3 separate regions of the Homo sapiens genome follow, and regions 1 and 3 are each reported to be linked to region 2. Evidence: microRNA targets listed by miRTarBase, many of them from high-throughput screens and not tested one by one. Region 2 holds a microRNA gene; each other region holds the end of a gene's coding sequence.

Evidence for each region. The annotated mature microRNA hsa-miR-488-3p reads UUGAAAGGCUAUUUCUUGGUC and lies in region 2 at 7,719-7,739, shown strand. An mRNA with a match to its seed (bases 2 to 7 or 8) in the 3' UTR can be bound and repressed. Matches are read on the target gene's strand: a 7mer-m8 pairs with bases 2 to 8, a 7mer-A1 pairs with bases 2 to 7 and ends in A, and an 8mer does both.
Region 1: the mRNA of BAG4 is a reported target of hsa-miR-488-3p. Seed matches in the 3' UTR shown: 7mer-A1 at 8,071-8,077.
Region 3: the mRNA of SLC39A8 is a reported target of hsa-miR-488-3p. Seed matches in the 3' UTR shown: 7mer-A1 at 4,087-4,093 and 7mer-A1 at 4,411-4,417.

Annotation. Positions count from the first base shown.
Region 1 is chr8:38,207,871-38,218,993 of GRCh38, reverse strand. BAG4 (BAG cochaperone 4) reads right to left here. Exons shown (of 5, transcript NM_004874.4): 4 at 9,727-9,981; 5 at 5,693-8,986. The coding sequence ends at 8,501. Among named protein-coding and RNA genes, the nearest start is that of DDHD2, 18 kb to the left of the region's middle. RefSeq lists a silencer at 7,989-8,283.
Region 2 is chr1:177,025,990-177,037,112 of GRCh38, reverse strand. It overlaps MIR488 (microRNA 488), which reads left to right and starts at 7,668; the gene lies at 7,668-7,750. It overlaps ASTN1 (astrotactin 1), which reads left to right. Exons shown (of 23, transcript NM_004319.3): 3 at 4,264-4,657; 4 at 6,161-6,307; 5 at 7,372-7,479.
Region 3 is chr4:102,255,904-102,267,026 of GRCh38, reverse strand. SLC39A8 (solute carrier family 39 member 8) reads left to right here. Exons shown (of 9, transcript NM_001135146.2): 9 at 3,834-5,361. The coding sequence ends at 3,983. Among named protein-coding and RNA genes, the nearest start is that of SLC39A8, 84 kb to the left of the region's middle.

The DNA.
Region 1 (11,123 bases), not on the chromosome of region 2:
GTCACTACTCCCCATGAGAAAAGCCAGAATGTAAAACCTTCCTGTTTTCATATAAGAGTGAAAATCATGCAGCTAGCCTCCTCTTCCCAATTTCAGACTTAAAATAGCTATCCGCTCCAAGAAAGATTATAAAAAAGTAATTAAGCAGAATAGTCAAGAAACATTTTCTAAAGGTAATTTTGGCACCTGTAATCCCACAACTTTGGGAGGCCGAGATGGGAGAATCATTTGGAGCCAGGAGTTCGAGATCAGCCTGACCAATATGGCAAAACCCCATCTCTACTAAAAATACAAAAATTAGCTGGGCGCAATGTCACACGCATGTAATCCCAGCTACAAGGGAGGCTGAGGCACAAGAATCGCTTGAACCCAGGAGGCAGAGGTTGCAGTGAGCCAAAATTTCACTACTACATTCCAGCCCGGGTGACACAGCAGGACTGCGTCTCAAAAAAATAATAATAAAAATAATTTTGGGTCTCTAGAGTAACAAAACCATACTTCAAAGAATACAAGGCCAGGCATGGTGGCTTATGCCTGGAATCCCAGCATTTTGGGAGGCTGAGATGGGTAGATCACTTAAGCCCAGGAGTTCAAGACCAGCCTGGGCCACATGGCAAAACCTCATCTCTATAAAAAATACAAAAATTAGCTGAGTGTGGTGACGCATGGCTGTAGTCCCAGGTACTGGGCAGGCTAGGGTACAATCAATTGAGCCTGGGAGGTTGAGGCTGCAGCAAGCTAGGATCACACCATTGCACTCTAGCCTAGGCTATGGTATAAAACCCTGTCTCCAAAATAAAATAAATACACACACACACACACACACACGAACACACAAGCAAGAACAGGCGTGGTGGCTCATGCCTGTAATCCCAGCACTTTGGGAGGCCGAGGAGGGGGGATCACCTGAGGTCAGGAGTTTGAGACCAGCTGACCAACATGGAGAAACCCCGTCTCTACTAAAAATACAAAATTAGCCGGGTGTGGTGGCACATGCCTGTAATCCCAGCTACTGAGGAGGCTGAGACAGGAGAATCTCTTGAACCCGGAAGGCGGAGGTTGCAGTGAGCAGAGATCATGCCATTGCACTCCAGCCTGGGCAACAAGAGTGAAACTCCATCTCAAAAAAAAAAAAAAAAAAAAAAACAAAAAAAACGGATATCTGAGAAATACCTCTAACGTGATAATGTGATAATGACAAAGACTAAAAGAAAAAAGCAATTTTGAGGAAATCCATTATTCGAAAGAAGAAAACACCAAGAAATCATCATTAATATCCTCAGAGATACAAGATGCTCCAACTGTAAACAAAAGCAGAATCTCATAAAGGAACCCAGCAAACAAAAATATCCTTGGAAGTTAAAAATATGATAGGGCCAGGCGCAGTGGTTCATGTCTGTAATCCTAACACTTTTGGAGACTGAGGCAGGAGGATCACTTGAGGTCAGGAATTCAGGACCAGGACCAGCCTGGGCAATATAGTCAGATCCTGTCTCTAAAAAAATGGTGTGTGTGTGTGTGTGTGTGTTTTGAGACGGACTCTCACTGTGTCGCCAGGCTGGAGTGCAGTGGCGCGATCTCAGCTCACTGCAACCTCCGCCTCCTGGGTTCAAGTGATTCTCATGCCTCAGCCTGAGTAGCTGGGATTACAGGCATGTGCTACCATACCCAGCTAATTTTTATATTTTTAGTAGAGACGGGGTTTCACCATGTTGGCCAGGCTGGTCTCGAACCCCTGACCTCATAATCCACCCGCCTCGGCCTCCCAAAGTGCTGGGATTACAGGAGTGAGCCACTGCAACTGGCCAAAAGTTTGTTTTTTTGGTTGTTTGTTTTGAGATGGAGTCTCGCTCTGTCGCCCAGGCTGGAGTGCAGTGGTGCGATTTCAGCTCAACTGCAAGCCCGCCTCCCGGGTTCACATCATTCTCCTGCCTCAGCCTCCCCAGTAGCTGGGACTACAGGTGTCTGCCAGCACACCTGGCTAATTTTTTGTATTTTTAGTAGAGATGGGGTTTCACCATGTTAGCCAGGATGGTCTCGATCTCCTGACCTTGTGATCCTCCCGCCTCGGCCTCCCAAAGTGCTGGGATTACAGGCGTGAGCCATCACGCCCAGCCAATTTTTTTTTTTTTTTTTAATGATAGAAGAGGCTGGGCATGGTGGCTTATGCCTATAATCCCAGTACTTTGGGAGGTGGAGGTGGGTGGATCACTTGAGGTCAGGAGTTCAAGATCAGCCTAGCAAACAGGGTGAAACCACATCTCTACTAAAAATACAAAAAATTAGCCAGCGTAGTGGTGGGTCCCCATAGTCCCAGCTACTCGGGAGTCCAAGGCAGGAGAATTGCTTGAACCTGGGAGTTGGAGGTTGCAGTGAGCTGAGATCACACCACTGCACTCCAGCCTGGGTGACCGAGTGACAGTCTTTCTAAAAAAAAAACCAAAAAAAAAGATGGAAGAAATGTAAGACACAATGTTTTAGAAGTCAGAAGAAAAAGTTCGCCAGGCATGGTAGCTCATGCCTGTAATCTTAGCACTTTGGGAAGGCAAAGTGGGTGTATCGCTTGAGCTCAGGATTTCAAAACCAGCCTGGGCAACTTAGCAAAACCCTGTCTCTACAAAAAAATACAAAAAAAATTAGCCAGTTGTGACGGTGTGCACCTGTAACCCAGCTACTCAGGAGGCTGAGGCAGGATGATCAACTGAACCAGGAAGGCAGAGGTTGCAGTGAGCAGAGATTGTGCCCCTGAACTCCAGCCTGGATGACAGAATGAGACCCTGTCACACAGAAAATAAAAATAAAAAGTGATAAAGTTGTATAAATCTCCTACAAAGTACCACAAAAAGGCAAAACATTAAAAAAAAAACAAACAAACAGAAAACATAAGAAAATTAAAGAACCAGTCTATGAGGCCTACAGTCAAAACAGTAGTAATTCTAGAAAGTATTAACAGAGAAGACTGGGATGGAGGAAAGAGGGAAATTAACAAACAAACAAAAAATCAAAAAATTTCACAGGACTTAATGGTATGAGTTGCCAGAATGAAATGGCCCCAGCAAAACGGATAAAAATGGACCTAAACCAAAGCTATTCTTAGGAAATTTCAGAACAAATGGGGCCCCCCCAAAAATTCTATAAGCTTCTAGAGAAAAATATCAGGTTTTATACAAAGGATCTTGAATCAGAATGGCATATGCTTCTCAACAGCAATTCTGGAATCTACAAGACAATATAACAATGCCTTCAAAATCCTTAAGATAATCATTTCCTAGAATTCTATACCCAGCCAAACTATCAATCCATTGGCTAGGTGGAACAGACATTTTCAAATATGCAAGATCAAAATAAATTATTTCCCATGCACCCTTTTCCAGGAAGCACCTGGAGAATATGCTCCACCAAATGACGGAATAAACAAAAAGAGAAAGACATAGGATACAAAAAACAGAAAACCAAAAGAAGAGACAAAAAGAATCCACAGCATGACCCTATGTACTATGCCAGGAACATACTAGTTTTCCAGTCAGAAGGGTTCAGGATAGACTCTTCAGAAGTTTGAAATTGATAAAATATTTATATATATATATTATATATATTTATATTATATATATTTTAAATATATATTATATATTAAATATATATTACATATTTAATGTATATTTAATATTTTAAATATATATTTCTAATATATATTTATATGTTTTATATATATATATTTATTTATTTTTTTTTTTTTGAGACGGAATCTCACTGTTGCCCAGGCTGGAGTGCAGTGGCACGATCTCAGCTCACTGCAACCTCCACCTCCTGAGTTCAAGTGATTCTCCTGCCTCAGTCTCCCAAGTGGCTGGAATTACAGGCATGCGCCACCACACCCAGCTAATTTTTGTATTTTTAGTAGAGATGGGGTTTTGCCATATTGGCCAGGAGGATCTCCTGACCTCAAGTTGTCTACCCACCTCAGCCTCTCAAAGCAGTAGGATGACAGGTGTGAGCCACCGCGCCCAGCCAATATTAATAATTTTTAATCATTTTGTATTTATCTTAATTTTTTAATTTTTTTTTTAAATAGAGACGAGGTCTCACTATGTTGCCCAGGCTGGTCTTGAACTCCTGGGCTCAAGCAATCCTCCCGCCTTGGCCTTCCAAAGTGCTGGGCATACAGGCATTAGCCACCATGCCGGGCCTTGTCTGAGCATCTTGAGAGACTTAGACGACTGAGAGAAGGTCAAATCAGTCTTAGGTAGATAAGCAAACAAAACAAATATGACAGATGATTAATTCCAGGGAAAACAAGTTGTTAGGAAAGGAAAAGTAATCAGGTTACTATATAGCTAAACTCTCCTTAGCATTTACATAGTCAGGATAACGTACAATGAAACTACCAAATAAGTATATTGAGGACAGGTGTGGTAGCTCACATCTGTAATCCCAGCACTTGGGAAGCCAAGGAGGGAGGATCACTTGAGCCCAGCCAGGCATTTGAGACTAGCTTGGGTAACATGGCAAGACTCCATCTCTACAAAAAATTACAAAATTAGCCAGGTGCCATAATGCATGCCTCCCAGCTACTGGGGAGGCTGAGGCGGGAGGATCCCTTGGGCCCAGGAATTTCAGGCAGTAGTGAGCCGAGATCATGCCACTGCACTCCATCCTGGGTGACAGAGCAAGACTCTGTCTCAAAAAAAAAAAAAGTAAAGAAAACATATATATATATATATAGAGAGAGAGAGAGAGAGAGAGAGAGAGAGAGAGAGAGAAAGAGAGAGAGAGAGAAACCTGGAAACCTGGCCAGGCACAGTGGCTCACACCTGTAATTCCAGCACTTTGGGAGGCCAAGGTGGGCAGATCACCTGAGGTCAGGAGTTCGAGACCAGCCTGGCCAACATGGTGAAACCCCGCCTCTACTAAAAATACAAAAATTAGCTGGACGTGGTGGTACATGTCTGCAATCCCAGCTACTCAGGAGGCTGAGGCAGGAGAATGGCTTGAACCTGGGAAGTGGAGGTTGCAGTGAGCCGAGATCGCGCCATTGCACTCCCACCTGGGCGACAGAGCAAGACTCCGTCTCAAAAAAAACATAAAAACTCAGTTGAAGCTGGTTGAGGTGGTCCATGCCTGTAGTCGCAGCTACCCAGGAGGCTGAGGCAGAAGGATCACTTGAGCCCAGGAATTTAAGACCAGCATAGCAAGACTCTTGTCTCTAAAAACAAAATTTTTTGATTAACAAAAGAAAAACTCAGTTGAAAGTGGTTGCCTTTAGAGAAGGAGAAATGGGGGTGGGATCAGGAGAATGCTGCCTTTCATAGAACTGACTTTTTAAACTCGTAACTTCTACGAATTGAGGTAAACTCCTTACTTTTTTAAAAAAATAAGTAAAAAAAAGTAAAGTTGTAAAAGAAAAGCTCCATCAACTATCCATCCCCCAAAAACTTTTTTATGCCTATTTAATCTACATTCTTCAAAATTTTTTTAACCTGCCTAGCTTTAATGGTATTATTTACATTAACCAACTGAAAAACTGTTTTCAGAACCCCATTTTTAAAAGCATTTAAAAGAATTCTGCACCAACATGTGGAGACACATATAATCCAACCCCTGTATACTTCATTAGGGCTTATTTGTTTAAACAGTTTCATTGGCATTCATACTTGGAACAACAGAGGGTTATTATAAAAAAAAAAAAACATAGTTGTGTTTATCATGCCAGGACTGGGTAACTTTATTCAAGACTTTGACAAAATGATCCCCAAAGTAATATAAATGTAGACACTTTAAAAAGTCCAGATGTGAAATTTCAAGAAAACTTTGAATTCAGTCCAAAGTCAGTATTAAGTCAAAAGTTGAACCAATTCTACAAATCATAAATACTATTTTCCTTCTTAAGTTCATATATTTTCTGAGATAGATTACCAACTTAGTTTTCTTTGATATTGGTATTTGGAATAATTTTAACATGATTTAACATCTTTAAGTTCTAAATCTATACTTATCCTGAATATCTTATTATAGTTAAAAATATAAATCCAGAACTGACAACTCTTCCTTACAGAAGAATTCCAATAATAAATGTAGAAGGATTGAGAGAAATAGAAAATCACCATTAGAACACCACAGTAGTAACTGCCACAAGCAAGATCTGCCAATGGATAGTAAAATGAGCAAAAGTTTAAGCAGAAACGGGACATTTGCATAGTCTCCGGGTATCTCCAGCAAATATTCAATAATTACAAGGAAAACACAGTAAGTTTACAGTAGCGAATCCTAGCAGACACCACCTTAGCATAGTGATCAAGGTTAACAACACCAGAAATACATTACAACATCAGGTATCCCCTGTTATGATACACTGTCACAGACTGGAAGACAGGACGTAGGCATGATAGCTAAATGCAAGGCTGGGTCTTGGAACAGTAAAAGGACATTAGTGAAAAGACTAAAATCTCTACTTTTTAAACTTTCTACTTTAGTTAGTATTATATCAAGGTTAATTTCTTAATTTTGACAAATGTTCTATTGTTACGTAAGATGTTAACATAAGGGCAAGGTGGGTGCAGAGTATACAAGAACTCTACTACTTTTACAACTCTTCTGTAAGTCTAAAATTATCTCAAAAGCTTAAAAAATAACTGTTAGAAAACAAACATGTATGTGCATAACATGTGTACATATATATAAATCAAGACTTCATGGAAATTGGCATCTTGGGCACTCAGTCAGTAAAAGAATAGTGTTCTCTTCTGAATTATTCATTGTCTTACTGGTAGCTTAGCTTTAAGGTCCTCCCCCTTCTAGACTTTTAATTTCAAGTATAAATTTCTAATTTTCATAGAAAAGCCTTTTTTAAACATTCCTATATTAGGCCAAAAATAAAATCCTAGAATAAAATTATCACCATATTATCTTATAAAATCACTCATCCCAATCATAAGACCCAGCCAGTATTTTTACTACATTTCCTCTCCTCATCTGTTTGTATTGGTTTGGTTTGGTTTATGAGTGGGGACAGCTAATAGATTTAGTATTTACTCATAGGCCTGACAGTCTAGGGGAAAAAAAATTATCACTTGGGTATCTTATGAAGAAACAGCTATTTTTCCAAGAACCAATATTGTGTACTCACCTCAGACATAAAAAGTTATTTACCTAAGTCTCTTCTATCTAACAGCATAGAGTTACCCAAACAAGGCCAATAAAGACCCTTTCAATATCCTTTTCTTAAATTTGGCTCTAAAATGACTGTTAATAATGGTAATAAATGTCTTTTTATTAAACAGACAATTTTATCTTATGCAATTTAGGGAAATAAACATAAAATCTACCTTTAAATGAAGAAAATAATAATTTCCCACTCTAACTATGGCTGATTCATTCCCTGAGCATGAATCCCATTTTACCCTCATTGTTTTTAACTATAAACTGAGCTGAAATCTGCTCACAGGTGAAACTAGTATTTTAGATGGAGAATGATATTACCAAGTAATCATATTTATTACTTTTTGTAGTAATTATTTCTACTCACTGTGGCATTTAATGTTTCATCTGTAACTCTCTATCACAATGCCCTCTATAGAAGCAGCAATAGTGAAAACATAACTACACTTTGGGGAAAAAAAAAAAAAACAGGAAAAAACAGATAACTTTTAAGTGGATCTTTATCCAAATACAATAAAAAAGCAAAAAAGAAAAGTGTCCGTAAACATTTTCATTTTATGTCAATGCCATTTCCAAATTTACCTTCCACTACTACCATGAACAGCAGAAGTGGTAAAAAAAAAAAAAAAAAAAAAAGAAGAAAAAAACTCTAACCTAATGATCTATAGAAAAAGGGAGACAATTTACTCACTACACATTGCAGTATATTCAAGTGGTGAAAAGATATAAATTTTTTCAGAACTGCCATACTATCTGGCTGTCAATATAGTCTCTTGAATAATTATATTAAACATATTACTACAAAATGTACCAAGAAGTAGAGAATAATACTATATTTGTAAACTGCAAATAACAAAACAAAACAGAAGTCCAAGAAGGCTAAAGTCTAAGCTATAATTACACATGAAGTATATGTTGAAAGCAGTCACAATGTACAAAAATGTGACAAGATATCCAGATGTTTAAAAAAACACATCCTGTTTGTCTCAGATTATATCCAGTTTCATCTGGTAGGTTTCTGATAAGCCTGTTGTGTGAAGTGTGTTTCCCTCCTGCTGGTAAGAAGCAGCTTGTAGATATCCATAAATTTTTTAAGGAGTGAGTCTACTTGGCAATATTGGTAACTCCATAGTTTCCTATTACATTCATTCGTCTGAAAACTGAAAACAACTCATGACTAAAATATTCTTCCATTCCTTTGCCAGTTTTTCAAGTATAAAATCAAAGGAAAGCTGGAATGTATTGCTTCTTGTCATCAACAGGCATTTCAAAAAGAGGGTAATTAACCAAATCAAGTGTTCTTTGGTCAAGTTAGTAACAGGCTTCCACTTTGTTCTAAATCCTTTCATAATCCTTTTTTTTCTAATTTTTCCAGTATGGCCTGAATCTTACAAACAGCCTCTTTTCTGGCCTGCCGTACAGAGTCCTGGCCCCCAGTTTCAACTGAATCCAGTTCCAAAAGTTCCTTGGTTAGCATTTCTTCCAGAAGCCAGTATGCTTTGTCTGTCTTTTTTCCTACAAATTCTTCTACTTCTTGTTCAAGATACTGGACCTTCTCCAGCACATGTATGATTTTTTTAATACTCGGAGGAGTACTTTCATCTGAAGGTACACATTCTTCAGGAAGACTGCTACTTTGATCTTGATTGTTGGGATGGTCACTGGTGGCATTACCATACAGCTGAGGCTCAGCACTATACTGGACTTGGGAATCCAAAAGATCTGAATCATCATTGTTCACTGTCCCCGAGGATTCGTACTGATGGACACTGCAAGGAAAGTTGTGCCGGTTCATGCTTTGATCTGATTGGCTATAGGGGTATGAAGAATCCTTGGAGTGGGAGAGCAAAAAGAGGAAAAGAGCTGTTTTAATGGGAATGCATCAACATCAAATTTGTTAGCCCACATCTTTCACTTGACCAGAAAGGTACATGAAAAGATTCCCTAACAATAAAATTGGACCCCTCTCCTTAATCATTTGCAAAAAAACACAGTCCTAAGAAGATAAAAGGGAGTGCCCTGTCAGACAAAAGGCACAGAATTTTTGAGTTATAATGGCTGGAACCTGCCCTGTGGCAGGTCCATCACCATGAGCACCTCATAGTCCATCCTGTGACCTAATTAATAAGAATTAGTTTTTCCCCTAAAAGGTTAAAAACCTCAAGCAAGGTCTTGAAAAGGAACACAGCCACAAGTGATAATGTTCAAGTCTGTGGTTTAAATACAAGCTCATGCTACAGATATTTCACATTGGTTTTGTCTTCTGTTCATAGATTATTTGAAGTAGTAAAATGCATCTTTGCATTTAACGTTTAGAAGAATTACAACAAACAGAAAATGTGTATCTTTCTGTCTTTTAACAAAAACGATGTGAATCTAAATCTTCTCTAAATATAAAGTCTATTAAAAAAAAGAAAAAGGAAACCGAGCTGAGGTAAAGCTATAGATAAGTAGTCACCAACTTTTTGTAATTAGTCCCCATTTAACACAAACCAGTACAGAAACTATATAAACCATGTTATGTTCTCCTAATTACACACACATTAAAGGAACAACATTTAGGTCTCCTACCTTGGGCTGCTGGACTGGGGGTGAAGGGGGTGACTGGGGAGAGCCACTGCTAGGCCATGGTGAAGTACTTTCAGTCATGTAGAGATTGCCGGGTGGTGCTGAGGGCGCTGATGAAGGCCAGGGATAACGGCCACCCATTCCATAAGCACCAGGAGAAGCCCACGCATCTTCTTGTGGTCGTACAGTCGGTCCTGATTGTGGAACACTACGATTACCATCTCCATAAGGATAATGGGGCAGGGTCATTCCAGGGTTCTAGATTGAGAAGAAGAAATATACCAGTCATTGTGAAAAACTTATAATAAAAATATTCTGCTACAGGCAGATTCTGAGATGCTTCCTCTCTTCTTAACAGAGTATACATTAGCTGCTACCGGACTAAACTGTAGTAAATCTAATTAATCAGCTGCAGTAATTTCTCCAAGCCTCAAAAAGTTGGTTCCAAAGATACCAGGGGTAGATTTAATGACAATAAAACTCAGAAGGAATAAGGCCTAAAAATTCAATGGATGAAACCCAAGTCTGTCCCATAGATACTATAAACAAACGGACCCATATGCTATAAGGAAGCACAAATAAAGACATGTTAGAACTCCTCTTGAAGTGAACAGAGAAATAAACATAGTTATTCACAGAATATTAAAAAAACATGAACCTGGCCAGGCGCGGTGGCTCACGCCTGTAATCCCAGCACTTTGGGAGGCTGAGATGGGCGGATCACGAGGTCAGGAGATCGAGACCATCCTGGCTAACAAGGTGAAACCCCATCTCTACTAAAAATACAAAAAAAATTAGCTGGGCGCGGTGGCGGGCGCTTGTAGTCCCAGCTACTCGGGAGGCTGAGGCCGGAGAATGGCATGAACCCAGGAGGTGGAGCTTGCAGTGAGCCTAGACCGTGCCACTGCACTCCAGCCTGGGCGACAGAGCGAGACTCCGTCTCAAAAAAAAAAAAAAAAAAAAGAACCTAACAGGGTGCTAAAAAAGGCTAAGATTTGCCTGGCACGGTGGCTCATGCCTGTAATCCCAGCACTTTGGGAGGCCGAGGGGGGCAGATCACGAGGTCAGGAGATCAAGACCATCCTGGCCAACATGGTGAAACCCCATCTCTACTAAAAATACAAAAATGAGCTGGGCGTGATGGCGCGTGCTTGTAATCCCAGCTACTTGGGAGGCTGAGGCAGAAGAATTGCTTGAACCCAGGAGGTAGAGGTTGCAGTGAGCCAAGATCACGCCACAAAAAAAAAAAAAAGGCTAAGATAGGGAAACTTTCAAGCAGCAACTCTCTAAAGATTACTTTCAGTATAAAAATTTATGATTATGACCTTCAGCCAAAGTCCATTTACTGCAATAGCTGCCACAAATAAGAAAGGCATCAATATAAAAGCCTTCCCAATCTA
Region 2 (11,123 bases):
CTCAGTTCCTCATACCTGTAATCCCACCACTTTGGGAGGCCGAGGCAAGTGGATTATTTGAAGCCAGAAGTTAGAGACCAGCCTCCCCGACATGGTCAAACCCTGTCTCTACTAAAAATACAAATATTAGCCAGGCATGGTGGTGCATGCCTGTAATCCCAGCTACTTGGGAGGTTGAGGTGAGAGAATCACTTGAACATGGGAGATGGAGGTTGCAGTGGGCCAAGATCACACCTCTGCACTCCAGCCTGGGTGACAGAGTGAGACCCTGTCTCAAAAAAAGAAAAAAAGAAAAAAAAGAAAGAAATTATCCAAGACCTATGGTTTATTGAAAAATGTAACAGTAACTGAATGTGAGCCAAGTCCTCACTGTAGAAGGACAGTTACCAAAGTGGCTAGACCCCTGCCTTTTCCTAGTGTAGTGGTGGGCCTATATTTTCTTCCTACGTGCTACCTGCTCAAGCAGGTAGAGCATTTCAGAGAAATTTATGTGTAGTGATTTTACAAATAATTATTACAAAATATTATTAAATAATGTCACATATTAATGTCACATCACATTACAGTATATTATTATTTATGTAATAGTCCACAATTAGTAAGCCATTGCAAAGTATTTTGACATCTGTCACCAATTTGAGTTACAGAAGCAGAGAACCCATACCACAACTTGAGTACCTGAGAATCCTTTTTCAAATGCTTGTGCTGAGTTTTACCTATTGGCTGAAGCTTATTCCTGGTAACTGATTATTAGAAAGCTGAGGTCGGCCGGGCACGGTGGCTCACACCTGTAATCCCAGCACTTTGGGAGGCTGAGGCGGGTGGATCACCTGAGGTCAGGAGTTTGAGACCAGCCTCAACATGGAGAAACCCCGTCTCTACTAAAAATACAAAATTAGCCGGGCGTGGTGGTGCATGCCTGTAATCCCAGCTACTCAGGAGGCTGAGGCAGGAGAATTGCTTGAACCTGGGAGGTGGAGGTTGCAGTGAGCCAAGATCGTGCCATTGCACTCCACTCCAGTCTGGGCAACAAGAGCAAAACTCCATCTCAAAAAAAAAAAAAAAAAAAAAAAAAAGAAAGCTGAGGTCATCCCATCCAGAGTCACTGACTCTAAGCAGAGGAAGCGTTTTTTACTAAAGCAAAATTAGAGAAGCTAAATATACTGGCTTAGCAAAACAAATCTTCTGTTCTAGCTCCCTATAAGTTATGTTTTTAAGAAAAATGAACATAAAATATTCTTAATTGAGTGTCTAGGCTCCACACATGGTTAAGAGAATTTTGGATGAACTTACCAAAATGGCCTGTGAGAAGAGCAGTGAAGGAAGATCTGGGACTAGAGCCAGTTCTGCACTGTCTAGTTCTGTAGTTTCTCTGAGCCTTGGTTTTTTCATCAGAAAAGGAAGGGGCTGAACCTAGAGATAGATATGCAATGGGTCCCTAAGTTGAAAGAAAGTACACATTTCTCATCTAAATTCAGCTCAGTTGAAGGCCTAATGGTATCTCTCAGGCATGTAGTGACACAAATAGTCCTGTTTAAACACAGATAACTTGAAATGTGAGTATCGTCTTTTTACTACCAACTAATCTTGGATTTGGATGCTTAGTAGGTGCTTACTAAAGGTCGTTTGTTTATGATAGCTCCTCCTTTGACCCACTGTCAGCTAGATGTGCATTTTGAATATTTGAAATTTGAGTATTTGAATAGTTACTCTTTTTTTCTTCCAGAACTGACAATGGGTCTGGATGTATTCATCCATACTCTCCTATTCTGTCCTCTTATGTTGTGCAAGATAGATGCCAGGGTGTAGATGTCTCTCCAGTGAGCAATGCTCATTCTGGGTGACTGCAGGCTAGTGCTTAAGAATATAGGCTGTGAAATAAGAGTTGTGGTCTCATTCCAGTCCCACTCCTCATTTGCTGTGTGACGTTGGGCAAGTTATTTAACCTCTGCGCCTCATCTTTTTCAAATGTAAAATGGGGAATTGAGTTAAAAGTGAGGAACCTTTTGAACAAGTATCTGGTACATGGTAAAAGCATGATAATGGACAGCTAATCTTGTTTTATTACTGCATAATATAGGGAATGAGTCTATGCCTCAGACCTCATCATAACCCTGTTGTGATCATCTGAAAGGAGAATTAGAGAGGAACAGTGGAAGGAGCTCCTAAAAAACCCTACATGAGCAAAAAACATAGTGTTTAAGCCATTCCTTAGAGATTGATGCTTACGCTACTCTTACAGCTCCTTAGGGAATAAAATTACCTCTCGTTTTCACTAGCTTAATTCAATGTCTGACAACTTCTCTCAGTTGGGAAGTTATTCCTTCTGTGTGGCTTAATTACCTATTGTTGCAGTTTCAATTTGGGGTGAAGGAAAAGATAGCACTGACTCTGAGATACAGGTTCTGCTAAAAAAAAATGTCAGGTTGGACACAAATACTCGCTGTCAATGAGTGGTACAGGGCTTAGTCATGCACTGTGGAGGCACTGTGTCTTCTAGGCAGTGTTCTGGGGGGTCCCAGGAGCTCTGTGTGTGTGTCTGCAGGGCTGCCAGGATGGATGGGAGTGGAGGTGGCAGTTAGCAAGGACCTAGAATACTTGGCTTTGGACTCATACCCATAATGGAACCTGAGCATGTTTATTCTTTCTCTATACTTGCATAAGAGCTTGCACCAGGAGAAAGGGTTCTGCAAAAAAAGAAATAATTGAAAACCAGGAGGTCAGCATACATCTGTCCCCAACAAGCCACATGATATAGGCTGTCACTTGGCAGCTGACTCTGTTGCCTCGTGTCTCTGCTCCTCTGTGCTGCCTGCTTGAAAGTGGCAGTGTGTGTGTGTGTGTGTGTGTGTGTGTGTGTGTGTGTGTTCCTTTGCTCACAGCGATGGTGAGAGGGGGAGGATAAATAGGAAGATTTTCAGGGAAAGAAATTTTATAAATCCAAGGTATAATTATTATGAGACTGGAAAAGCCCCCTTTAATGTATTTGGAGGCATACTCTTGACCTAGCTTTATGTGGGTGGGCCCTCTGGGAATTAGTAGCGGATTTTTATCTCTAGCTTATTTGATAGGGAGGTATGATTGAAGCCTAAGGTTGAGAGAAGAACCATTTGGCACATGCTGGCCTAATGAAATAGGTTTGGAAAGATATTGACCAAAATAAAGGGAGTGAATAGAGATTGTGCACGGGAAGATTTATGCCCACCGAGTGCCATGCAGCACCAAGCTTAAAGGCTGTCCCTCTAAATGCTGCCCCGGTGATGTCAAGGCCATGTGTTCAGTCTCACTGAGTTCTGCATCCTCACCTCTGGCAGTCGACAGAGTGGTGTCCTGATTTGTAAGGAATGACCTTCGAGGTGTTGGCCTTTGAGCACCAGAAGGTAACTCCTCCACCAGCCTGACTCCAGGACTTGGGTTTCAATCCCTTCCCCTGAGCTTTAGTAAGAAGACGGAACATCACTCAGGACTGTGTGGTTAAGGGAAAGCTGTGACCCAAAAGTCATGTTCAGATGATGAGATTCCTCCCCACACTTGGTGGTAAATTCCTGATGGATGTAAATTTCTATTCAGATTTGTCAATGGTTTTTCCTGCTGGGCCAGTTATTCAGATGGAGACATTTAAGGTTATGCTGAGAACAGCTTTGATTGTGTGAGATATATTATGCTAGGCACTTTACATAGTTAGCTAACCTAATTCTTACAACCACCCTGGGTGGTTAAGTGGTGTCTTCTCCATTATACAGATGACGTATCCGAGGTTTAGAATTTATAGGACCCACTGATAATTGGTGGAACCACTGTTAGAATCTATGATTGATGTTTAGACGTGAGACAGGAAGAAACCAGATGTCACCCCATATTGCTAAAAAAAATAAAGTCCTGAAACCAGCGTTATGTGTGGCAGATTTAACTTAATACATAAAAGCTCTCCCCTGTTTTTGCAGCTGAAATCACGCACACACACACACACACACACACACACACACACAGACTTGTTTCTTCAAATTGTTTGCTAAGCCCGAAGCAACTGGATCACTTGAAATGATGCACTGGTCATCCCAGCTCCATTTTTCTCTCACCCTAAATACCAGTCACAGTAGAATTTCCCTTTGCTGCTGAATGATGCTTGCTGTAAATGCTTAATACAGCTGAATGAATGAATGCATAAATAAGTGATGAATGGTGGTAGCAGAAGGAGCAGTGACTCTTTGTGGGAAGAGCCTACCCATCTTCCCACATCCATCTGTGGTCCTCTCTTCCTAGGGTGGCATGATCGCTCTGCTGCTGTCCATCTTGTGCCTGGTGATGATCCTGTATACTCGCCGGCGCTGGTGCAAACGCCGCCGGGTCCCGCAGCCCCAGAAGAGTGCCAGTGCTGAGGCAGCCAATGAGATTCACTACATTCCTTCTGTGCTGATCGGCGGGCACGGACGGGAGAGCCTGCGCAATGCCCGCGTGCAGGGCCACAACTCCAGTGGCACCCTGAGCATCCGGGAGACACCTATCCTGGACGGCTATGAGTATGACATCACTGATCTGCGCCACCATCTGCAGAGGGAGTGCATGAACGGAGGGGAGGACTTTGCCAGCCAGGTCACGCGCACCCTCGACTCCCTGCAGGGCTGCAATGAAAAGTCGGGGATGGACCTCACACCAGGTGGGGATGGGAGAAAGGCAAGGGGCTGTTTGGTCCTTCATCTCAAGGAGCTGGGGAGTGGGTAGGAACAGCTGTGTGACAACAGCTGGTTGTCCTACATAGTGTGATGTGGCAGTGCCCTTCCCTAGATAGGCAAGAATAACCTGTTTCCTGAGATGATGGGAGCTGTTTTCTAATCTAGAAAACCAGAAGAACCGTGTAAATTGGATCTTCTTTCACTTCCACCAGGCACTGGAAGCAACATACTTTAACGTTCAACAGAGGAGTGAGTTAGAGCCATTTTAGTATGTAATGAGCAACCCTCTGGGAAATGAGATAGCAAGAAAAATGAACATGTGTATATGACTTCTTGTATATTTTATACTTGCTTAGGCAATTTAATTCTCCATTGAAGCGGAGGGGACAGTGGTATCTGCTTTTTCCTATGACTCCTGAGAATTGGGCCTGGGGTGTTTTCTTTATGTTTATCTTGCTCATGCCTCTGTGCTCTCTACAAGGGATGCACTTCTTCAAAGAAAATGAAGGATTGCAATCATGGTATCAGACCCCAGATGCATTGTGTATCTATGGAGACACTGACTGGAAGAACTAATCCAGATGAACAAGATTAGGGTCAAAAACTGCAGAGAGAGAAAGACTGCACTCTTCCTTTACAGTAATCTGCCTATTTCTCTTTAAAACTTCTATGAATCAGCAAATCTCCATAGATAAACCCTTGACAGTGATCCTTCAAAGAACTGCCCAATTATCTTTGAGGAAGACATGTTTGATGCTGAATGTTGCTTACTATATATAGACTTTCAGTGGGGCTTGAAAAAGTGGAATCACATAGAGGTTTTTATTCTGCTTGTTCTCTACAAGACATTCTACATGAAGAGCCAATTTCTAATGAGATTTAAAGCCTGAAAATTCCTTGAGAATATGGGGGACATATCATCAACATCTCTTCATATTGACCATAACACCTGGTGTAGTGCTAAGCCCACAAAGTAGACATATGGTACTCAGGGGTTATTATCAACTCAAATGCCTTTAGGAGGCCAACAGATAACACAGATATTTGAAGCAGAGAAGAGGTCAGACAATACAGAATGGCGCAGACTGTGATGAAAGAGAAGGGGCATGTTCTGCCTGAATGCACACAAATTCAAATTCTTTTAAAACTCTGTGCTGACCAAAAATAAAGAAATCTGCAGTCTGTATTTAGCCAAAGGGTTACAAGTGCTGACCTTATCAATACAGAATATTATAATACATAATATAATAATAGTTGAATTGGATTTTCAGTTGTAGTTCCCTGACTTCACTGCTTCTCCCATAACTTTGCAGTCCCTCAGAAATAAAAAAGGAGTATTTCAGTTTCTTGCAGCCAGTCTCTCAGTTTGCTGGTGTCTTATTTCAATTCTGTGAGACCTTATCTTCTTGGTTTATGCAGATTTCCTTCTTCTCCCTTTCTTTTGGTCTTTTCTCTTAAAGTTTTTGCCTCGTCTTTTCCTTATACAGGAAGTGACAATGCCAAGCTGTCACTGATGAACAAGTATAAAGATAATATTATAGCCACTAGCCCTGTGGACTCCAACCACCAGCAAGCCACCCTTCTCTCTCACACCTCCAGCAGCCAGAGAAAGCGGATCAACAACAAAGCAAGAGGTATGCATGTCTGACATTAGGGCTCGTGGGTGGATTCCTTCATATTGGTAGAGGCAGGGCCATTAATATCTTCTACCCATTCTCTCATGCGTGGCTGGAGAGGGTATGCCCTGGCACAGCCTTTCTGGAGGCCAGTTAAATGCTACTTACCAAAAAAATGTAAATGTGCAAACCTTTTGACCAAGTAATTTCACCAACAAGAGTCTATTCTTAGGAAATAATTGGACAAGTGTGCAAAGAAGTGTGTAAAAGGCCGTTCATCACAGCATTGTTTAAACAAGTGAAAAATTGGAAATAGCTTAAATGTCCATCAACAGGGAATTGGTTAACTACCTAGCACATCTGTCTGCTGTCCAGCACTTACCATGCAGCCATTTGAAACAATATAGATCTATATTTGTTAATATGGAAAGTTGCCCACCCATCTATTAAATGGGAAAAAAAATGAAGTTATAAAATAGAAGATACAGCATAATGTCATTTTTAAAGAGAGATTAAAAAACCTTTACCTGTTTCTGTGTCAGTAAAAGCCAGAGAGTATACACATGAAATGTTAGCAGAGTTTATCTCTGATTTAAAGGATTTAGAGGGCATTAGAATTGTTCCCTTTACATAGTTTTGTGCATTTCCTTTATTCTATTCTGTCTTTTTTGTATTAAATATATATAATTCTAGAGCCAGAAAAAACACAAAGATGTAATTTCCTATACCTCTTAGATAGTCTCATATTAACAGAATCATAACCTGTAATGAGGGAAATTTCCCTTTCTTCCTATTCCACCCACTTTCCCTGGAGGTCCTCTCTGGCAGATAGGTGCCAGAAATGGCCCTAGTCAGAGGGAAGTGGGTGGGGCAGGGTAGAGCTCCAGTGATTGCTGTCCCAATGGTCTACTTCTCCAACATATCCGTGTATGAGGAAGCCCCAACCCCCTTGGCTATTTCTCCCAGATTATCAGTCAGCTTACTTTCATTTTTGTTGATTTTCCCATTGAACTTGCCCAAAGGTTTGGTGTCATGAAACCAGAACTGAAAACGCTTTCTTGACCATGCTGCTTTCATTACAGCTGGTTCCGCCTTCTTGAACCCTGAAGGGGATTCTGGCACAGAGGCAGAAAACGACCCCCAGCTGACCTTTTACACGGATCCTTCAAGGAGCAGGAGGCGTAGTAGAGGTAGGAATGATAGAGGTGGCAGAAGGTGGTAAAGGATCTGGGAGTGAGGGAGGCGGGGGAAGGCGAAGAGGTGTTGGGTTGGGTTGTGGGCTCTATGGAACAAAACCAGTTTCTGCAAGAAGAATTTTTGGACCACAACTGGTGTTTCCTCCTAAGGAAGAAAGAAGAGCCTAGAGTGGAAAATTTCAGAGAATCATCTCTCCCAGATAATGGCACTCTCAAACAAGTTTCCAAATTGTTTGAAAGGCTATTTCTTGGTCAGATGACTCTCAATTTCTTCTGGAAGACTCAGGAGTCATATTTTGCTGTTCAGACAAACAAAGTTAATAAAGTGTGTTGTATGTGAAAAGATGGATACTATATGTACCCCTGCTTCCTCTACCACATTGGCCTTGGGTTTGAGCTAGGCAAGGATTGGGGGCAGTGTAGTTGAGGAATGATCTATGGCCTGAAAATCTGTGTAATTGTCTTTGACCTTTAAGCCCCTGCCTGGTAGAATCACAGGACCCCGAGCCTCCCAGTTCCTTCCTTTCCCCTGGCAGGGTTAAGGTGGCTAATCCATTCTCCTCCACGTGGACAGAGCTGTCCTTCCACGCAGCCACTGTGTGCCACTTCACTGTCATGATCAGTGGCTTCAACTGTGGCTATTCCGGCCACAGCTCCCACTGCCTCTGACTTCACTTGTATCACCACCACACCAGCGGAGTTCGGAGCACAAGCGCCGGTCAGCTTTACCAGTTATTTGCTGTGTGGTACTGGATAAGAACAACAAGTTCTCTGACCTTCAGTTTACTCACATGTCAAATGAGTTAACAATACCTTGTGCGTAGAACATAGAGCTTTATCAGGATTAAATTATATTAAAATGTGCCTTTTTGGAGATTGCTAAAGCACTATGAAATCCCTATTGTTGCTGTTAGAACTCTCCATCATGCAGCCCCATATTTATACAGTGCCCCATCTTAAAGAATTTTAGGCAGCGTCCCTGTAAGATACAGTAGAGGATATTTGAGTGGCATCTCCTTGTAATACATTCCATAACAATTTCCTCAACCAATAGTCAACCAGTGTCTCCTGAAAGACATATACATTTTTATTCTCTCGTACCTCCACTTGAATTCCCTTCATAACAGGTGTTCTTCCCAGAGATTTGAAGAAGCCCTTTTGATTATAAATTCCAGTTTCTATAGGCTTAACTACTATCAGTATAATAAAAGTTTTTCCATCATTTTTCTCAAGAGATCATTGTGGCTCTGGGTATTCTAATATTGAATGGCCAGGTTCTGTGAGGCGAGAATGTGGATTAGGGTCTCCCAATCTCCCTTGATACTTATTACAAATTTTAGACAGTGGATACCCAACCTAGGCCCAGCTAATCCAGGCCTAATCAAAGCAGGGTGTGTCCTGCTTTAATAAAGTCTTGTTTCAGAAAAATCCATGGTAATGAATTAGTTTCTCGACAGCATGAAACTGTTCCTTTTAAATACCAAGGTCTCCTAATGCATCAACTTTTTACGCTATTAACCAGACTGTAAGCTTCTTAGGGGTGGGGAATGCCTAATTTATTTTTCCAAAGTGCCTAGTGAAGGATTTTTCCTGTAACAGATGCTTGTAAGTGTTTGTTGAATTGGATTGGATATATCCATCAGTGCAGCAAAAACATTTTATAACCCACCTGCTGTGGGTCAGGTTTGTGATAGGTGGTAGAAACATGAAAATATGGCCCAGTGATAAGGCTTAATTTAATAATATAAATAAAGTGAAGAGAGTACTCAGAAGAGAGGACAGTTAATCCTACCTGAAAGCAATGGGAGGCAAAAAAGGAGAAAGTAATTAGAACTAGGTTTTATATATATGTATATATACACATACACACACACACACACACACACACACACACACACACACACACACACACACTGTACTGGGTTTCTCAAAAGAGGAGAAGAAGTCTAGGATAAGGGCATTTCAGTAAAGGAAAATGGCACATAAAAAGCCTTGAAGGGACAAAAGAACATGGTGTTTTAAAGGAAGTAAAAGTCGTTCAATATGGCAGCTGTCATCAAGTTATAAATATATACGCACACGAGATGGTAAGGATGAGGCTGGAAAATGGCTAACAAAGGACCATGCACATGCCATGTGACTGAGTTTCTGCTTGCCTCAGTGGGGTGTAAGGAACCATTGGAGGTTCTGAAACCAGGTAGAGATGCTGGATTATGGGTCGATGATGCAGAAAGACCATAGAGTCAGGAATATCCGTAGCAAGTCATTGAAATCACATGAGAGCAGTGGCAATTGCCTGTAAACAGTGATGATTCTATGTGATAAGAGCTCTAACAGCTCTTATCACACCTTATAGCACCAAGGGCTAGAACACCAAGGAATCAGTGAGAATCTGTTCTTGGAGGTTTCAGGGAAGTGTTTACAGGGAGATGTTGTTTGAGCTGAGACTTGAAGAGTAGGTGTATACCAGGCTGACAAGGTGACAAAATGGCCTTCTGTGGAGGAGGAAATAATCTGTGCAAAGTCACTGAGACATAAACTATGATGGTCTTGTCAGGGAGCAGTAAAATGTTTACTAGAATAGAGCTTAGGGTGCAGGTTTGTGGTTTTCTTAGGAAATAATGTTAGAAGATCAGCAGAAGCCAGAAAGTACATGAGCTTGATTCCAAGGGCCTTGGACCTGACAAAAGAGCAACATCCTGGTCTGCTCTGCTCCATGAAGGATCCTCCCAGGGACAACATGCAGGATAGGTGACAGCAGGGTGAGCTTGAGGCAGGGGAACAGGTGGATGGCTTCTGCTTCAGTTTAGATATAAGATGATATGGGTAGGGAGGGATGGAAAGAATGGAGGCCAGATAAGTTTTGGACACAAAATGAGAGAAACGCAAATCAAAACTACAATGAGATATCATCTAACCCCAGTTAAAATGGCTTTTATCCAAAGACAGGCAATCACAAACACTGGTGAGGATGTGGAGAAAAGGGAACCCTTGTACACTGCGGTGGGAATGTAAATTGGTACAACCACTATGAAGAACAGTCTGGAAGTCCCTCAGAAGACTAAAAATACAGCTGCCATATGACCCAGCAATCCCACTGCTGGGAACATACCCTAAAGAGACAAAGATTTAATGGCATTGGTGAGGGCAGGGTGGGGGTGTGGCTTGTAAGCAAGAGAAAAGAGTTGGATATAATGGAGTTTTTAAATTTGAGCAACCAAATGTGTGGCAGTGCCATTGGCTGGGCAATGGAAGTAGTTGGAGGAGCAGGGTTTGAGAGAAGGTGGTGAGAGGAGGTAGTGAGGTTTTGAGAGAAGGTGGATCTGCATCTGAGGCCTGGGCTGGGCTGGAAACCTGTAAGCGTAGGAAAATAGACTGTATTATGAAAGGATAGTAACATGCACAGAATATTTCCATCTATCAAGGACAGAGGACCCAGAGACTACCTTCTGCCCTCAAGTCTCTCCTTTCCAGCTACTGCCAACACATGCACCCAGAGGAAACTGCTCCCCTAAAGGACAAGTATATCCATAAACCAAAAACTCATCCCTGTGTTCCTGAGGACATCAGTTCCAAAGGCACCACTGGGCCCAAAGACTGAGTAGTGCATTGTTCCTGTGTCCTGAAACCTCACCTGG
Region 3 (11,123 bases), not on the chromosome of region 2:
ACACTAAAATTGGTAAAATTTTGACAATAGTTATTTGACATAGTATATATTTATATCTGTTCAATGTCTGTGTCTTTGTATCTGTGTGTATGTGTGTGTTTGTGCTCAAAAGAGCGTGCATGGCCGGGTGCGGTGGCTCATGCCTGTAATCCCAGCACTTTGGGAGGCCGAGGCGGGCGGATCACAAGGTCAAGAGATCTAGACCATCCTGGCCAACATGGTGAAACCCTGTCTCTACTGAAACTACAAAAATTAGCCGGGCGTGGTGGCGGGCGCCTGTAATCCCAGCTACTCGGGAGTCTGAGGCAGGAGAATTGCTTGAACCCGGGAGGCAGAGGTTGCTGTGAGCCGAGATTGTGCCACTGTACTCCAGCCTGACGACAGAACGAGACTCCATCTAAAAAAAAAAGAGTGTGCATGTGTGTGTGTAAGAGAGAGAATATCCTGTGCATTTTAAAATAAATCATGGAAATCTTTCTATAAAATGATAATATGGTAGTGTATGAAAATCAAGGACTATTTCTTTTGCATTTGGAACTGGATGTATTACATACATAATTTAATAATTTGAGTTTTTTATTTGCATTCTTACCTCCAAATTATATTTGTCTAGCTCTGTTCGTTGTTCTCTGCAGACCCTCAGAAGAGCAAGGATTTCATCTCTTAGAACCAATGCTACATTTATAACTTTTGTCACAAAATTAATGTCTCATGCTATCTTATAGTCATTTTACTTTCTGATATAAGAATGGAATCTTACTAGAGTTGTTCAGTTTAAAGAAATAATACTAAGAAATAATACTCATCCTGGAGTGAGCAAAATAGGCACAGTTCAAGGGGCTTTTCCATTCATGGGGCTTTTCCTCTAGAAAGAGGGGATCCTTAAATTAAACAACAAAAAATCACACAGATGACTAAATAATTACAAATAATAAAAAATGCTATGAAATAAGAGAGAAAGTAGAATATATGATGAGAGATGATAATAAAGGAATCTAGAATAAACTAGGATTAGCTAGCAAAAGTGTTTTAGCAAGATATAAGGTAAAACGTGAAGGATTTAGTCCACTGAAAAATTAGAGAAATACAAGTTCTGGTACAGGTGATGGTAGATGTGAAGATTTTGCTGGGTAAACTTGAGGTCATGAAAGAATGGGTTGGGTGAAGCATAGAGAGCAGGTAATGGAAAAGGAGAAAGAGAACATAAAATGAGGTAAATTCCATCCCACTGATTGATTCAGTTGGAGAAAAATACTACTTCAGTACTTTTACTCTTGTTGATGCCTGAAAGAACTAGATATTCCTATTAAGCTATCAGTACTAAAACCTTTAAACATCCAAAGTAAATGATCATACCACCCCTCCCAGCATTCTATTACAGGAGCACCTTGTTTTATTGCACATTGCTTTGATGCACTTTGTAAATGCTAGGTTTTTTGCACATTGAAAGTTTTTGGCAACCCTGCCTCAAGCAAATCTGTCAGTGCCATTTTTTGAATAGCATGGGCTTATTTCCTGTCTCTGTCACATTTTGTTAATTTTTAAACGATTTCAAACCTTTTCATTATTATTATAATATCTGTTATAGTGATTTGTGATCAGTGATCTATGATGTTACTATTATGTTTTGGGACGCCATGAACCACATTCGTATAAAATGGTGAACTTAATTGACAAATGTTGTGTGTGTTTTCTCCCTGCACCCCTGATCAGCCATCCTTCCATCTCCCTCTCCTTGGGCCTCCCTATTCCTTGACACCCAACAATGTTGAAATTACACCAATTAATAATCCTACAGTGGCCTCTAAGTGTTCAAGTGAAAGGAAGAGCTGCACATCTATCATATTAAATCAAAGGCCTGAAATGATTAGGCTTAGTGAGGAGGGCATGTTGAAACCCAAGGCAGGCCAAAAGCTAGACTTTGTTTGCCAGATAGCCCAGTTGTGACTGCAAAGAAAGGATTGATGAAGGAAATTAAAAGGGCTACTCCAATGAACACACAAATAATAAGAAAGCAAAACAGCCTTATTGCTGACATGAATAAAATTTACGTGGTATGGATAGAAAGATCAAACCAGCTACAACATTCCGTTAAGCAACAGCCTATTTCAGAGCAAGGAATAACTCTCTTCAATTCTATGATGGCTTACAGAAGTAAAGAAGCTGCAGAAGAAAAACTGGACATTAGCAGAGGTGTATTCATTAGGTTTAAGGAAAGAAGCCATCTGTATGACATAAAAGTGTCAGGTGAAGCAGCAAGTGCTGATGGGAAGCTGCAGAAAGTTATCCAGAAGATCTAACTAAGATCACTGATGAAGGTGACTACACTAAACTAATAGATTTTAAGTGTAGCTGAAACAGCCTTCTGTTAGAAGAACATGCCATCCAGGACTTTCCATACTAGAGAGAAGTCAATGCCTGGTTTCAAATCTTCAAAGGATAGGCTGACTGTCTTACTAGGGACTAATGCAGCTGGTAACTTTAAGTTGAGGTCAGTGATCATTTACCATTCCCCAAATCCTAGGGCCCTTAGGAATTATGTTGAATCCACTCTGTGCTCTAGAAATAGAACAACACAGCCTGGATGATAACACATCTGTTTACAGCATGGTTTAGTGAGTATTTTAAACCCACTGTTAGGACCCACTGCTCAGAAAAATAAAAGAAATTCCTTTCAAACATTACTGCTCATTGACAGTGCATCAAATCACCTAAGAGCTCTTATGGAGATGTACAAGGAGATGAAAGTTTTTGTGCTTGCTAACACAACATACATTCCGCAGTCCATGGATCAGTCCATGGAGTAGTTTTGACTTACAAATCATATCATTTAAGAATAATTTGTAAGTCTCTAGTTGCTGTAGATAGTGATTCCTCTGATGCATCTGGGCAAAGTAAGTTGAAAACTTTCTAGAAAGGACTTATCCTTCTAGATGATATGAAGAACATTTGTGATTTATGGAAGGAGTCAAAATATCCACATTAATTGAAATTGGAAAGAAGCTGATTTCAACCCTCATGGATGACTTTGAGGTGTTCAAGACTTCAGGGAAGGAAGTAACTGCAGAGGTAGTGGAAATGGCAAGATAACTAGAATGAGAAGTGGAGACTGAAGATGGGACTGAATTGCTGCAATCTCGTGATTAAACTAGAATGAATGAGGGGTTGCTTCTTACGGAGGAACAAACAGTGATTTCTTGAGACAGAATCTATTCCTGGTGAACATTGCTGAAATGACAACAAAGGATTTAGAATATTCTATAAACATAGTTCATAAAGCAGGGACAGAGTTTGAGAGGATTGCCTCCACTTTGGAAATAATTTCTACTGTGGGTAAAATGCTGTCAAACAGCATTGCACACTACAGAGAAATCTTTCATGAAAGAAATAAATTGATGTTGCAAATGTCATTGTTGTCTTATTTTAAGAAATTTCCACAGCCACTCCCATCTTTAGCAACCACTACTCTAATCAGTCAGCAGCCATCAAGATGGAATCAAGACTCCACCAGCAAAAAGATTACAACTCACCCAAAGCTCGAATGATTGGTAGCATTTTTTAGCAATAAAGTATTTTTTTAAATTATGGTATATACATTGCCTTTTTAGATATTATGCTATTGCACACTTAATAGTCTACAGTATAATGCAAATATATCTATTATATGCACTGGGAAACCTGGGAATTCATGTAACTTGCTTTATTGAGATGTTTGCTTTATCACACTGGTCTGGAACCAAACCCACACTGTCTCCAAGGTATGCCTCTAAGTGACTGTTTTGTGGTTTGCCACAAGATGGCAACAGTTATCTAACAATATATCTGTCTTCTAGTTTCCAGAGATGAATGATATGCTGAGAGAAAAGGTAACTGGAAGAAAAACCGATTTCACCTTCTTCATGATTCAGAATGCTGGAATGTTAACTGGATTCACAGCCATTCTACTCATTACCTTGTATGCAGGAGAAATCGAATTGGAGTAATAGAAAATGGAAGATGGTGTTGTTAATAAAGGCATTTAATAGATAAAAACATCTCCAAAAAGGATTTTGAAGCTGATCCTATTTAGTTAAAAAGATAATTTTGCTTTCAACTGTAGGTCCAGAAAACTAATTATTGGCATCAGTCTGTGAAATAGTCCATTATTTGTTGTTAAAAATGCTTCAAAAGGTTTTCAGTGTCAGTCTGAGATGCCTGGTATATAGGAGCCTTTGGGAAATACCTATTTTTCAGTATTCCATGCATATTAGATATCACCATGAAGCAAGAGACATGCATTCTATAATCATGTAGACACTCAGACTCAGGGGAAAATACAAGTTATATCCTGAAAGCCTTTAAAACTCTATGGTAGGATCAAAGATTCAAATGGTTTCAGAGAGGTTTTATTTCAATTAATTTGTTCTAGTGCTTTCAAGAGCAAGTACATCAAAATGTAGAAGGTAAAATGTATGCAACACTAATATAAATTATTCCAAGTCTTTAAGGAGCCAAAGAAAAAAAAGATTTCTCACAGCTTTTTGTTCTGTTTTGTATTTCAATTAGGAACTTGCAGTATTATTTTGAAAACCATTCTAAAATAATAGGAGTTAGGAAATAAATAAAGTTTTGCTAGCCCTGCTAAGTTCAGGCTTAGAGGCTTATCGCTAAGTATAAACTTCACCAGATTCCACGAAAAGCTGGATAGCTTTTTTTCTGACTTATGTTGTGGTTGCACCCCTCACAAATGGCAGAACAGTATGTAAAGCTGGTAACACCTCGGTTTCAGTGCACCATGTGTTTGCTTTGTGAAGGTGAAGAATATGTTGGTTTAGAGAAAGAAATTGGATGTAATTTTATGCAATTTACTTTTAAAGACAAACATAACTATTTAGCAGAGAATATTTTAATAAATGCAAAACAACAGCTGGACTGCTGTACATCAAGGACAGATTAACTGGAAAACATATGTTCCTTATGTGTGATCGAGAGCCATTCAGAAAAGACTTCCTTTGTGTTCAGCCTATACTTTTCCATATGGTATACCTTGAAAAAAATTAGCACACCATGGTTATTTTTCTACCTTTTATAAAAGACAGAGCCTGTTTACTCATTTAGAAGATAGAGAAAATTGGTCTAAAATTGAACATCCTAGATTCACACTCCCAAGTCACTTAAGGTGATTTGATGGTGAGGAAAATGATTGACAAAGCCCAACAATGATCTCAGGAATTACATTTTCCAACAGACCAAAAAATGTTTTCATGTAGCAGCAATGCAGATTTGGTGAATATTTAATATATATTTTAGTATGTATTTCACTTTATGACTGACAATTAAAAAATATTGTTTGGCCAAATAGTAAACACCCTTTTGAAACCATGTATTGTGTCATTTGTTATTTAATATTTGTCCTGTTGAGTGACTACCATGTATCTGGTATTATGGGGGAGAGATATAAATAGGAAATCAGTGATGTGCTCAAACTGTAAATCTAACCCCGCCATGGCTTATTTCTATACCAGTTGCTTAGCATGGCCAACCCAAGAGTCGACGATTTTAATAGTCTCTGAATAGTATTATGATGATCTCTCGTTACTTAGTAGGGCCCTACCTAGTAGACTGTTTCGCTTTACCACATCTAAAAGGGTTTCTTTAATGAGGTGCTTAAATTTTTAAAAAGTGAACTAGTTGAGAAGAGCCAAAACAGCACCACGAGTTTACCAGACAATTAACATAGGCATATCAACAGCTGATTACTGATGGCCTGTGCCAGGGGAAAACTTCCAGTCTGTCCTCCATGCTCTGGTTGGCATCATCTTCCTTTAGGTCTCACTTTGGAGACCAGACTTCTGTGCTCATTTAAGGTCCATTACGGTACAAGAGGTTAACCCTATAATAAATAAAGATTCTCCAACACTGATGTTACTACAGCTTCTTTCTCACTGATACTTTGCCTTCCATACAACTGTGGGTGGCAATGTCTGTGTTGGATTGCTTTTCCTTAGCTTCCTTTCTGTGCCAGGTATGCACAAGGCATTCTCTCATGGCCATTTCTCTTCCACATTGGGAATTTCCAGCTTCTGGATGGTCCCAGAATCAGTGAGTTTACTAGTAAGATTTCAGGCAAGCTAAGGCAGCTGGATAAACTGAAGACTCTAAATACCTGTTTCATTAATTCTAAGACATGCATTTCCCCAAATGGTATGCTGTAATCACTGACAGCTGGGTAGCATTGTGGAGGTAGTTATACTTGCCTGAAAATGAAAATCATCTGTTGCAATCTGGTAAGGCTAAGAAAATGCCAGTAGCACTGTGTTTAGGATTTGATGGTGTATAGTAACAGGATTATCTATGTTAGGTTTACTTTCCTTCTTATAAAACAAGTGTGGAAGGAGCAGTGCAGGGTTGGCATGGCAGTCCCATGGTGGCTGGGAACCCAGACTCCTTTAATCCATTAGCTCTGCCATCTTTAACTTGTGACTCCCACCTTCAAGATTGCTTCATGCTCTAAGATGGTTGCTACAGATTCAGCCTTAAGGTCTAAATTCTACATAGAAGGAGGAATGGGTAGAAAGGCAAAAAGTTCAAACTCAGCTCTTCCTCCCTCTTTAAAGAGCCTTTTCAGAAGTAATAGCCAATAATCTCCACTTGTATTCAATGACCAGAATTAGTCACATGGCCATACCAATCTTCAGGAGAAGCTGAGAAACATTGCTTTTAGCTGGATACATTACCAGCAATAAAATCAGAATTCTCTTACTGAAAAGAAGCCCAGACTGGATATCGGCTGTCTCAGGTACAGACAGGCTTGTATCAGTTTAATTCGTAAGCTTATTACTCCAGATGGTTCTTATGCAGCCAGTTTAGGGAACTGCTTTTTGTAGGGATTCTCATGACTTGTTTCAGATCAATCCCTTGTCACTTTAACTATTTTAATTATACTGGCCCATCTGAGCAGTCTTTCCTAATAACCAGTATTTTTCTTTACACACTTGAACTACTTGTCATTATAGTTTCTCTGCCTTAGCCTCCTGTGAGTACTATTTATTTACCTTGAAGAAATCCTATGTTTTTCACAGGATGATCTATATTCTAAGGAAACGGAAACAAAACTCTTTTCTATGGACTTTGATCTTTCTGTTTAAAGCTCTTCTGATTACTGGAGCCACATCCAGAATTATGAAACTAAGTACTATTAACACATACTGGCAAAAGTAAATTTAAAAAACCACTTATTTCTCCCCCTGCCCCATATGGGTTATTACAGCCAGTCAGTGCAAGAAAAGTTGGATCTGACATCCAAATGTGGTAAAGCAGAAACAGTCTGCTAGGTAGGGCCCTACTAAGTAACCAGAGATCATCATAATACTATTCAGGGACTATTAAAATCGTTGACTTTCGGGTTGGCCATGCTAAGCAACTGGTATAGAAATAAGCCATGGCGGGGCTAGATTTACAGTTTGAGCACATCACTGATTTCCTATTTATATCTCTCCCCCATAATACCAGTTTGTTATCTGATTCTTGTAGATAATCAAATGGGCTACTGATGACATCAAATCTCAACTTCATTTACTTTGGATATATACGGTAAGAATAACAAGGAACAATTTTAATGGGTGGGCTTGCATGTTTTAAAGTTTATACAATGGCTTAATTCCTTCTGCAGTGACTGTGCATGTTATTCCCACAACAGTATAGACCAACTGGTAGTAAAACCCCAGTGAGGCAACACGTGGATAATTTATTGCCAAGCTTATGGTCACCAACAGGATGTTTGCTTAGGGGTCATAGGAAAGAAAAATAAAGATGAAAAGTTATGAGTACAGGGGGAAATCTCCTTGGAAGAATTCAAATGGGAAATTCTTCCCTCTCTCAAAAAGCTGAGGAAGTTTATAAAACTTGTTTCAGTCTGTATTTTGTGGCAAGCTCCATTAGCAGACCTCACAGACACTGCGGGTGGTGTCTGTAGAGAGGCTCAGAGGAGGTCTGGCAAGTGCTTTTGCAGGTGAAGTGAGGAGAGTTGTTGCTACCCCAGCTTGACCTTCAGTCGTAGAGTTTGTTGGGATAAAAGGTAGACGAATATTCCCATGGTCTAGTGTGAGCCGAGTGGTGTGTAAGTTCTGGTTTGGAACAATTTAAAATCTTGTGTAAGAGGGGTACTATCTTGAAAATAGAAGAAGGTCAGTACTGAGTGAACTTCTGGAAAACCAAGGACTAAGTCATGTGGGGCAATTGGAGAACTAGAATACATCACTTGGCAGGAACCCCTCTGAAGAATCCCAAAAGTGTCTATAAAAGAAAGGTTAGTCTTAAGCATCTGTCAGACAGACAGCATTAAGCAACATTTTGACAGTATCTGTCAAGTATGAACTTTTTTATCCCCTTTTCTTTCCTTCATCTGAGCACTTAACCCTGGAAGGGCCAAAAGCCAATTAGTGAACAGTGGGGAGTAAGGAAATAAAAGAGAAGGATTCCTTCCCAGAAGTCTTACCTTTGAATACAAATTGAATTACTGATTGATGCATTGGATTGGACATTTTCAATAACTGACTTGAGACTATGTTTGTGTCTTGAAGTAATTGTAGGATTTTATATTCCCTCCAAAGTCCTGTGTGAGAACAGCCATTGTGCCACCCCAAGTTTCATCCAGGGGTAGGAGAAGGGCTAGCCAGTCCTTCACTCCCAAGCAGACAGTGAGGAATAAAATTAAAAGTTGTTTTTAGTTACCCCTGTGAGAACTGCATGTTAATATACTGATTATATCTGCCCTTTAAAAATTAGTACTTACACACACCTGTAGTCCCAGCTACTCGGGAGGCTGAGGCAGGAGAATGGTGTTAATCAGGGAGGCGGAGCTTGCAGTGAGCCGAGATCGCGCCACTGCACTCCAGCCTGGGTGACAAAGCAAGACTCCGTCTCAAAAAAAAAAACAAAAAACAAAAAACACTTACTTACAACAAACCTGTGTAATGGGTTCTATTTTTAATGCTAGGCCAGGCTGCAGCTGAGAAGTTGCAAAGGAACCCCATGCTCAGGGATGCAGCCAGGGAAGAGCATGACAAAAGCCCTCCCACCCACACTGCTGACCTCTTGCAGCAGCTGCAAACAGCAGGAGAGCCCTTTCCTGTTGCAGTATCCCTCCAGCGCCCTCTACTGAGACAGCTCAATATCATGCTCACTGTAAAGGATGGGTGCTAAAGGAATTCTGTTCATTATGACAGAGCATGTATTTAGAGTGAATTTGGAGTTCAGTGTTAGTAAGTTGGTAAGTGGCACAGGGAGACATTACTCCGTGACTAAATGACATCACTCTGTGGTGATGGGACTTCGTGCATTTGCAATGTTGGGGACATAGACTTTTCAACTGTACAGGATGGGGATCCACTCTCCACCCTTCTGTATCCTGCTTTTTGCCTCCAGAGACTGACCCACATGGACCTCAGTGGGTATAGCCAAATGGAGAACTTCGACAAGAGACTGGAGGAAGTGAAGAGAGGAAGGATAGAGTATCAATTTCCTTGACTATCCTCCTACTGGGTATCCTTGGGCTGCCTGTTTTGCCCAAGAAGGCCTTCTCTACAGAAAAGCTTCTTACAATATCTGTGGCTAAGGCCCAGCTTGTTTTCCTTATTTCCAATTTATCAATAGCTGGCACTTCTGTAAATAGATAGAATTCAAAGAAATTACTAGAAAAATGAAATACAATTAAAAATAAATAAATAAATTAGCTGGGGGTGGTGGCGGACACCTGTAATCCCAGTTATTCAGGAGGCTGAGGCAGGAGAATTGAACCCGGGAGGCAGAGGTTGCAGTGAGCCGAGATAATGCCACTGCACTCTAGCATGGGTAACAGAGCAAGACTCCATCTTGGAAAAAAAAAAAAAGACATAGAAAATCCAACCCCATTTTTATTATTAGATAAACCTCATTTTTTATTAGACACAATTATTCTTTGGGATTACTGTTGAAGTTTATAAATGCTTATTCTCAATTTCCGTACCTAGTTCATCTAAAAAACTGTTGCTGGGCCAGCACCTGCCTGTAGATTCCCCTCCTTTGGTTTTGGTGCCCACTATCTCTCTGTCCCTTTGGCCTAGGGGTAGTAACAGCTCTACTGTCTTCAGCCCTGCGTTCATGTAGCATCACCTGTGGTTTCCCTGCACCCCACTTGCATGTTTGTAATCAGTCCCTTTGTAAATTAATGGACCTGCCTCACCTTACCCTCATTTGAGCATGGCAGTTCTTTGTTTCCCCTGTGGCTGTGATTATCAGCAGTAAACGTCTTATCCTGGAAGAGGAGGTGACTGTGTGAATTTGGCAGGAGAAGGAATACACAACAAGTGCGTATATGGGAGTGAAGTTGCTGCTCACTGAAAGCAAGGAGAAAATTTATGGGGATGAAAGATGATAAGCCATTATCATTAAACATTTTAGGGTAACAAGATGGCATTAGGTTAGATTAATTTGTATGATTAACTATGCATACAGAGAAAAATATCTAGGATGTTTTGAGAGACTAGTTATAAGTGGACTTATCACATTTCTGGCAGATAAGAATCTTTTGACTAGATAAAAGACTGTAACCAACTGTCCAACAACACGTCCTTAAGCATGAATCATCACGTATTTTTAAATAAAGACATAGATTTCTAGATAGGGAAGAATGAATATATTTTTATGATTGTTTATTGAACAGTTTATGCCTTATGGGAATCCTTCTCGTGTAGATGTATCTATAGGTCACATTCCCTCACTTAAAGCATACTATGAAGTGCTACGTGGAATATCTGAGTGAGAACACCGGGACTGCTGCTTGTGACTGTATTGCTGAGACGTTCCACCCATTCACAGCAATGCTTATAAATAGACAATGTTTTTTCTTTGGGAGTCATTGTATGTGCTAACCTTAATGGTGTTACTCTAATAATTATGTACGAGCTTGTTAATGAACTGGGAAACATTGATTTTAGAAGCTTAGAAACTGTGGAGGAAGGTGCTTCATATGGATCTTTCTACTTTTTGTATCTTTTGTGTTTCCATGAAAAAATCTTTTAATTTGTGAAAAGTAAGCCTCAGAATTCATGTCTAAGCATTTCGTAGAAGGATGCACGTGAGAAAAAGCACCTGCGCTGTCATAG